Regions from separate parts of the Homo sapiens genome. Here region 1 is reported to be linked to region 2. The links are microRNA targets in miRTarBase. Many come from high-throughput screens and were not tested one by one. Region 2 holds a microRNA gene; the other region holds the end of a gene's coding sequence.

Region 1 (4,339 bases), not on the chromosome of region 2:
TTTGACCTCCCAGGTTCAAGTGATCCTCCTACCCCAACCTCTGGAGTAGTTGGGACTATAGGTGTGCAGCTAATTTTTTATGCACAGCTAATTTTTAAATTTTTTTTTATAGTGACAGGGTCTTGTTTTGCTGCCCAGGCTGGTCTCAAACTCTTGGCCTCAAGCAATCCTCCTGCCTTGGCCTCCCAAAGTGCTGGGATGATGGTGTGAGCCACTGCACTCGGTCTCCCAATTTTAAATATGAGACTAAGCCATGGAGAGGTTATCATGCCCAGGGTCATGCAGCAAGCAAGCAGCAGAGCTGGGAGTGGAACCCAGACAGCCCATGGTCCTCCCTGCTACATCGCCTGTGCTATTCAGACACAATTTACAGTTCCCGTGAGCAGGTTCAAGTAGCTCATCAGATCAGCGCTCCTTCTGATCCCCAGGGAAGAGATGGTTTGAGTGTAGATTTGCTCCTCTTGGTCTGGTTACATCAGAAAACTGACTCATCAAGTACTAATCCCAACCTCCAAACACTCTCCACAACAGAGAGTCAAGGCAACCACACTCCAGGGTAAGAATCCAAATCGTTACTCCTAGCAGGCCCCATCAGGCCCCTGATCGGTGTGAACTCTCTCCTCATCCTTTGGGGATTGCCCAGAAATGAAAACCAGTTCCTGTATTATATGAAGAGCTGGAAATGTTCAGGTCAGACAGGGGATCTGTTTCTTCAGAGGTTTCCACTCTGTTTGCAGGATAATTCCTATTATAAGAGGTGTCTAGATTCCCTAATGTTGCTGGAATGTGGTGTCATTGAAAACAAGATTATATAAAAGCATGGGCGAGGTGTGGTGGTGCCATAGTAGAGGCATGGACAACTGCTCTCTTTCAGGGACTTTCCCAGAATTCTAGGGCCTGGGGCTTTCTTCCTGTTGTTCCTACTTAATGCTTGCCTTACAGTAGATGCTCAGTTAGGGCCTGTTGACCTAGTCGTTCTGACAAGACATAACTTTATGGAGGTATGTGGCAAAACCACACACTTTTTACAAGAGCCCTGCTGGTGTGGAGTGGGAAGCCCCTGAGCAGCTTGACGCTTCCCAGTTGCAAGCAGGTGGCCGCAAAAGGATCAGCGACAGCAGCTCCGGCGGTAGCACTGCCCCCTGAGCATGCCTGCCCTGACTTAGGGGCTCGTGCCTGATGAATGGAGCAAGGAAAACAAATCCCTTTAGTCACCCAAAGCCCATCTCCTAGAAGAGCAACAGCTCCTCCATCAGCAAGTGCCGCTTCAACACACAAGAAGGGAATAAAGGAACTGCAGATTCCAGTGGAAACACGGTATTCATTTCTGAGGACTGTGCTAGGTTTTAAGGCAATTGTCACATGTACAAAACAGTCAGATGAGCAGTATCTGAACAGATTTACCACAACATGTTAGAAAGAGAACAGCAGGGGAAATGTTTTCAGACAAGGAGATGTGAGATTTTCCCCAGTCACGTAACCCCTGGTCTACCGACTCTGTGGACTGAAAACCAGGAAGATAGACAGCACATTCTCTCTTCTCGCCTCCAAGGGGAAGGGCCACCTGCACACTCTCGGAAGCACCCTTCTCCAGACCCAGACACGCTTCTTACTGCAGGGCCAGGCCAGGACACAGGATGGTCGGCCAATGAGTCTTAAGTCCAGCTCTAATTTCACGCTTTATGGCTTTGTGAAATTCATCTTTAGAAATGGGAAAATCAAGATACCACAGACATACAACTTGTAGTTAATAGTTAAGTTCCCCTCTATCCAAACACAAACTTGCTTGGCTTGGAGCTAAAACTATACACACACGCACACACACACATGCATATACACAACACACATGTGTGTATAGATATACATATGTGTGTGTGTGTTGTGTATATATATATGAAGGAAGAAAAAAAGATTTACTGAAGCCTGAAGAATAGTGAGTGTTCATTTACCATTTGGAATCAAACAATGTGATTGTTTCCCTTGAAAACAGAAGAGTATCAGCAACATGCTCTACCCAGCGGGGAAAAGTTTCCAGTTTCCTTTGCACGGTTCCTGGTCCCTTTTGGCTTCACAGGAGACTGGAATGGCTTAGCTGGTTTAAAGAGAGCTGGGCTTTCCCCCTGGCTGGGTCAACTCTGTGTCCCATGGCTCTTCTTCACCCTTTCTGCTCAGGCTCATGTCCCCAGTTTTAAGAAGGGGGTGTGGCTTGATGGTCTCCGTTCCATCTACCCATTCTCATCTCAATGGTACACACATCCATAAGCGTGTGCCCCTGTCTGTAGGGCCCAGGTGACACATAGCAACAGGGAAAACAAGGGAGTGAAGGAGGCTGAACACTGGGGAGCTTTAATGGCCTGTTACAGGGTGGCAGAAACAGTGGCTGGGTCTGGGAGTCACAGCAAAATCAGGCGCCCAGAACCATGGTGGAAGGTGGGGTTGCTAGTTCATGAAAACTTGAAGGACATTAGGAAGAGGCGGCATTTGATGCTGTCAAGTAACTACACACAGAACAAGGGCATGATAAAAGTCCTAATGCACATAGAGAACAAAGCCCTGCTCAGAAATGCTGTCCTCACCAGCAGAAAGGACTCTGTGGAGAAAGCTGTCCCTTACATAAAAAAGAAGAACATACTGGGTTAGCACTTGATATCCAAGAAGTGAAATGGTCGTTTTCGAAGATTAACAGTTTGCTTCACCAAATCCCTCTGAGGTAGGTAAGAGGCAGGTGACATTAGCCCCATTTTACAAATGGGGTAAAGTGAGGCCCCAGGACCTGTTACATCACGAATATGCATCAACAGCCACAAACAGCACGCTCTCAGATCTTCCCCTTCACTTAGCTTAGAACCGTGTCAGCAGGTAATTGGAAAAACATGGACCATTTCGCTGATAATTTTAAACTTGGATGTACTGGCAAGAAAGGGCTCTATATTTTGAAATCAGCCAAAGCCAGGGGACCTGGGAACCTGTGAATGGGGGTACCCCACTCCAATTAGTACATGGTTTTCTCTGGGGTGGTGGTGGTTTTGTTTTTGCTGCAGTGCAGCATTTTACAGAGTGTCCAGTTGAATTCAAATAATAGATGATAAATCAACAAGGGTCCTGAATGTGATAACTACATCACACCTCCCCAGGGAAGGAGGCCCATCTCTGGCCTTTTGCCAAATCAGCGTGAATGGAGAAAAAGCCAAAGTGTTATCAGAGGCCCAGGCCTCTGGAAGGAAGCAGAAAAGTGCCCCAGGGCTGGGATGCGAACTGGGACAATTGTATGTGAAACCTGTCCTGTCCTGATTAGATTAGAGAACCCTCTGCCCCGCTTCTCCCCCACAAGGCTGCATTCCCTCTCCTTTTTTCTTTGACCTCAGAATCTAAGTTGTTTACCTAAGGCTGTGGACCAGAGACCACCACAGTGCTAACACCCACCTGGAGTATTTCTAACTTGACAATGTGCGGCACCTGCAGTCTCCCAGAACCCAGGGATCAGAAGCTATCCACACCTAGCTATAGCACAAACTCTTTAAACACCTGAGTCCCAGCTCAGCAAAGGCCAGCCATGGCTAAGAATTTGAGCATTTTTTCAATTACTGCAACTCGAGGCAATGCGACAGATGACTATAAACCCCCTTGGTTTGCTCAGAAAACACCTGATGCAGAGCTGACCGGGGAGAGTGAAATACATCTGCATTTTTTCCAAGATGTAACCACACAGGACCCTGTGAGTCCATGATTTCTTGAGCCTGGCAGCTCAAGGGGTTGTTTCCAAACAGATCCCTGGTGTACACACAGTTGCACCTGGACATGGATCAAGCCGAATGTCAGAGTGTCCTTGTCCTTGGTAACCAGTTCCGGCTGGGGAGCCCAATGCCAGTGCCGAGAGGTAAGCCTCAGGCCAGCGACTGGGCCAAAGCATTGCTTGGGAGGGTAAAAGTTGGCAAGGGCAGTGCCCTGTGTCCATGACTGGCGGCTGGGTGAACAGGGTGGGACATCACTGCTGGCAGGCAAGCCCAAAGCCCAGCCCCATCACAGAACCGACTCCTTGGATTCCAGTTCTGGGGCACTGGCCACGGGGCCAGCGGGGTTCTGGTGTGTCACCAGGGGCGATGTCTCCTCCTCAGACTTGCAGTTGGGGATGGCTTCCACTTTCACCTCAGCAAGTTCCTGCTCGCCTTTCTTTGTTGCCTTCTGATTCAGGTGGTGGAGAATGCCTGCACCCAGGGCATCCCCTTCCACATTCACCACCGTGGTGGTCCGGTCCCTGGTGGGAAAAGAAGAGGCAGCTATTATATCTACTGCTGGGCGATCGGGTCCTGTCACAGGCAGCCTGGATGCCGAAGGAAAG
Region 2 (4,398 bases):
ATGATTCCATGAAATTGCAGAGCTACAGGTTCACACAGATTAAGTTATATTTTGTTCCCACTTTATCCTCAGGCAGCAAAATATGTTACATATGTTTCAACAGCAATATTGAAATAGAAAAGTGTTTCCTATTAGACCTGAGCAAATCAGAAAACAAAATAACCATGAAAATCACAGTTCTCAAATAATTGACTTGTAATTTTATCCTATGTATATAATGTTTGTAGGCGGTCTACTAGGGTACTTCAGTTGTTATTTTAGAGAATATGATAGGCGAAAACTCAGAAGCCCAGAGATAGAAAATAATTAACTAAGATCAGTAAGAAAGTGACCTTAATATAAATGAACTGAGGCAGGCAAAGAAGTCTATCAGATCAGGAAACATTTGATTTGGATCATAATCAAATAATCAGAATAATTTTATTCATTCTCAGTCATAAGAAAGTTAAGAAGGTAGCATAAACAACATTTTTATCATATTTTCCCTTTTAGATTGAACATACTTTTTTGAATAGTGGTGTGTACCAATCATTCTGCAATGTGCTTTGATAGACTACCATATTTCATGATTGCATTCTCTGCTCCTTTTAGGCTACAGATCAGCAGTTTTCATGTTTCACCCCTGTTTCCATTAGAAAAGCAATTCAAGTTAGATATAATATTTAAAATGTAGGTTTTCGTTGTTGATGATAACTGTTTCACTCTCTCTTGTTTCATCTAAAAAACACAAAAGTCTTGTTTTAAAACAACCATTGTATGATCACGACTAGGTCAGCAATTGAGCAGGATTTATCACAGATGGCTCATCTCTGCTCCATATGGCTGGGGTGGCTTGACTAGGGCTACACTTACATGCCTGGAACTGGAGGGTAACCAGTCAATTGGGGGTACCTGTGTTCCCCACATGGCCTTTTTCTGCAGCAGAATAGTCTAGACTTCTTTATCTCTTGGCTGGGTTCCCCGCCTACAGACGTGGAAGCTGCAAGTCTTCTTTAGGATCAGACTTGAAAGACTCAGACATCATTTCTGCCTCATGGCGTTGGTAAAAGAAAGTCACAGAACCAGCTCAGATTTAAGTTTGGGAAATGGATTTTGCCTCTTTACGGGAGAAGTAGCATGCACATACACATAGGCATGGGAGAAGTTTGCGGTGGCCATCTTCACAACCTACCACAATTATAAGACGAAAGCATATTTTAAGTTTAAAAATTTACATTATCTACATTTTCATTCTCTGCTTTCTTCCTCCTTTCTTCCACAGATGCCTGTATATTATTACCCATCTGGTCAGTACCCTACCTCAACCACGCAACAGTACCGGCCCATGGCCCCGGTTCAGTACAACGCTCAGAGGAGTCAACAGATGCCACAGGCAGCACAGCAAGCAGGTACTTGGAATCTGTTTCCCATTTGCTTCTCAACCCAGTTATTTTTGCTGGTGAATCTTGTACTCTTTGGATGAGTGTCCAAGCTTGGCAATTTAAACCAGCACATTTTCTCTACCCAGAGAAGATAACAAAGCATTTGATTGACTCTGTGTGGAAAAGTAGTAGGTACAAGAAGGTGAAGCATATGTCAGACTAGCATCCCTGGCATGCATGTTAAACAGTCTCCATAAATTATTTTTTGATCCTTCTTCTGTTAAAGCAGAAAGTCAACCATGTCCGTACCTTTCTAGTTCATACCTTCTTTTAATTTTTTTTTTCTTTTCAATTTGAAGAGAGTGCTTCCTCTGTTCTTAAGGCTAGGGAACCAAATTAGGTTGTTTCAATATCGTGCTAAAAGATACTGCCTTTAGAAGAAGGCTATTGACAATCCAGCGTGTCTCGGTGGAACTCTGACTCCATGGTTCACTTTCATGATGGCCACATGCCTCCTGCCCAGAGCCCGGCAGCCACTGTGCAGTGGGAAGGGGGGCCGATACACTGTACGAGAGTGAGTAGCAGGTCTCACAGTGAACCGGTCTCTTTCCCTACTGTGTCACACTCCTAATGGAATGCCGTTATCCAAAGAGCAGCACGAACCCGACAGGGCTGAGTGGCTTGTGCTAGGGAGAGGTTTGTGTCATTCCTGCTGACCAAACTGCAGGAAAAACTGCTAATTGTCATGCTGAAGACTGCCTGACGGGGAGACTCTGCCTTCTGTAAGTAGGTCATGTAAAGAGCACGTGCTCCTTGCTGCTACTCATAGATGCCTGCTCCGTGATCTGATTTCTGCACTGAATCTATGTTATGCATATGGAATGTATACAGATACATGTATGTAATATATACACAATATGTACCATTTTTATAACCTATGAGAAAAGTGCAGTTCTTGCCAAGGATTAGCACCAATCACAGACATCCTAAGAATACCAATGCTGACACTGCTAGCATCCTGTCAGATTGGAGAAAGAATTAAATTCCCCCGTATTGTGGATGGTTACATGTTCTTTGGTTTATCTCATGGCCTATTTAAAGTCTGTGGGAGAAGAATTAGAGAAACCTATATCTTCCAGCCAGATTTTGTCTTGTTTCAGCACTGTATTAGTTTGGGGAAGAATATATTTGACCTCTGAATTGACTTTAGACTTTTACAGTGTTTTGAGAACACTAAAGGGTTTCAAATAACTATTTATTTTTAAAAAATCACTTGGCAATATTTTCTCTAATTTGTGGAAAACGTTATTACCTTTATCATTTTGGTGGTAACGGTGCTATCAGTTTAGATACATGCTGTAGAAATGTGTTGCTTGCATTCTGGACTATCTTATTTTATGCTAACGTTAATTAAAGGGTTAATTTACAATCTTGAGGATCTTGGTTTAGAGGCTATGTGCAAGTTTTCTACTTGGTTACTAATGCCTTTAGAAGAAAAAAGATGCAGATATCTAATTATAATGATTTTTATTAGGTTTGGTGCCATTGTGTGGCAATTTTTAAAGAGATTATTTCAGTCTTGTGGTAGAGTGTCATCATACAAAGAAACGCAGTTACAAAACATGCTGCAATCCACTAAACCCATAAACTCTAGATCTATGTGAGGGGATGAGAAAGTTAGATGAATATGATAACTGGGCAACAGAATTAGATTTCAAAAAAGTTTAGGCCTCCCCCACTGACTTCTCCATTGCTTTTTCTCCTCTTCACTAACTTTGTTAGTGGATGTCAAAACAAGAGACAATATATGAGGCATTTTTTACTCTTTAATAAAGCACAATGGGAGAATTTAGGGATGTGGAAACACCCTCTCCCATTCAGTTAGAGACCTCACTGGCTCCACCTACATTCCATGGCAACCTGGTAGCTTTGGTTTGTCACATTCTCCCACATCACCGCAAAAATGACCCTCCCAAGGTAAGATAATGACACTGTAATGAGAAGAGTGCACTCTAGAGCAGCATCAAGCTAAATATAGAAGCAAGGCAGTGCCTAGGGTGTCAAGGAAGTGAGTGCCAGTTAATGTGGCCTGTACAGGGTGAGGAAGTGAGAAAAGTGAAATGATCATAAACAGTATTGTCCCCAGAAATGATGGCATTAGTATACACATGCACACTGAGACCTTTGGGCTCTTAGTTTTTGTGACCACCACACTGGATACCTGGCCTAAAATCCCAACACAGTTTCCACCACAGTGATGAATGTACCTAGTATTTGGGAAAGCAGATGGTGTTCCCTGACCTTACAGAGAATCACTTCTGCTAATAAAATCCAAGTAACCAGACCACACAGTGGCTCTTTGAGAGTGCACAGAGGCTCTGGGTCCTACAGCTGGGCGTCCTTTTGTTGAGCCTAGGGAGACTAACAGAAACTTTCCAAATGGTCATGGCAGTCATTTGTGAGAGCAACTCTATGTGGATGGACTATCTCATAGAGGAAAGAGCCTCTTCAGATAACTGTATAAGTTATATTTTCTGGAAGAACTAGAAAATAAGACTTCTCCATCTTTAAGTCAAACTATGGGCTACTATCAGCATGTCACCCTCCCACAGTCATGTTTTAACTTGTTCTTCCTCCTGCCTCCTGCAGCTGTGTGTCTTGGGATCTGACCCTTTTCCATCTTCATCTGATAATGACACCAGATTATGTCATAACATCCTCAGCTATCACGTGGTTAAAATTAGAGTGAGACAGAATTATGTCAGTTAAAGTCAAATGAGATTTTAATCTGAATTTGCTTCTTGGCGCTGTTCTTAATCTTTATTTAATTGCAGTAAAAAGCCTCTCTTCCTTCTCCTACATTCTTGCCAGAATTGAAATCTCTGTCAGTTACTACATCTTTCCTAAGACTTAAAACTCTACACAGTGAATTTTTGTAAAGTGAACTGGACACTATACTGTTGATTAAATAGGACACCTGAGTTCCCCTGTGGCACAGTAGGGAGACATAAGTTCTTTATCCTGGTGATTTTGTACT

What was found. Region 2 holds the annotated microRNA hsa-miR-128-3p (UCACAGUGAACCGGUCUCUUU, at 1,950-1,970, shown strand). A microRNA usually pairs through its seed, bases 2 to 8, with sites in the 3' UTR of a target mRNA and lowers its output. Matches are read on the target gene's strand: a 7mer-m8 pairs with bases 2 to 8, a 7mer-A1 pairs with bases 2 to 7 and ends in A, and an 8mer does both.
Region 1: miRTarBase lists SLC1A4 as a target of hsa-miR-128-3p. Seed matches in the 3' UTR shown: 7mer-m8 at 3,406-3,412.

The regions. Positions count from the first base shown.
Region 1 is chr2:65,020,828-65,025,166 of GRCh38, reverse strand. SLC1A4 (solute carrier family 1 member 4) reads right to left here. Exons shown (of 8, transcript NM_003038.5): 8 at 1,302-4,255. The coding sequence ends at 4,021. Among named protein-coding and RNA genes, the nearest start is that of LINC02576, 7.7 kb to the left of the region's middle.
Region 2 is chr3:35,742,578-35,746,975 of GRCh38, forward strand. MIR128-2 (microRNA 128-2) reads left to right here and starts at 1,899; the gene lies at 1,899-1,982. ARPP21 (cAMP regulated phosphoprotein 21) reads left to right here. Exons shown (of 21, transcript NM_001385562.1): 19 at 1,262-1,388.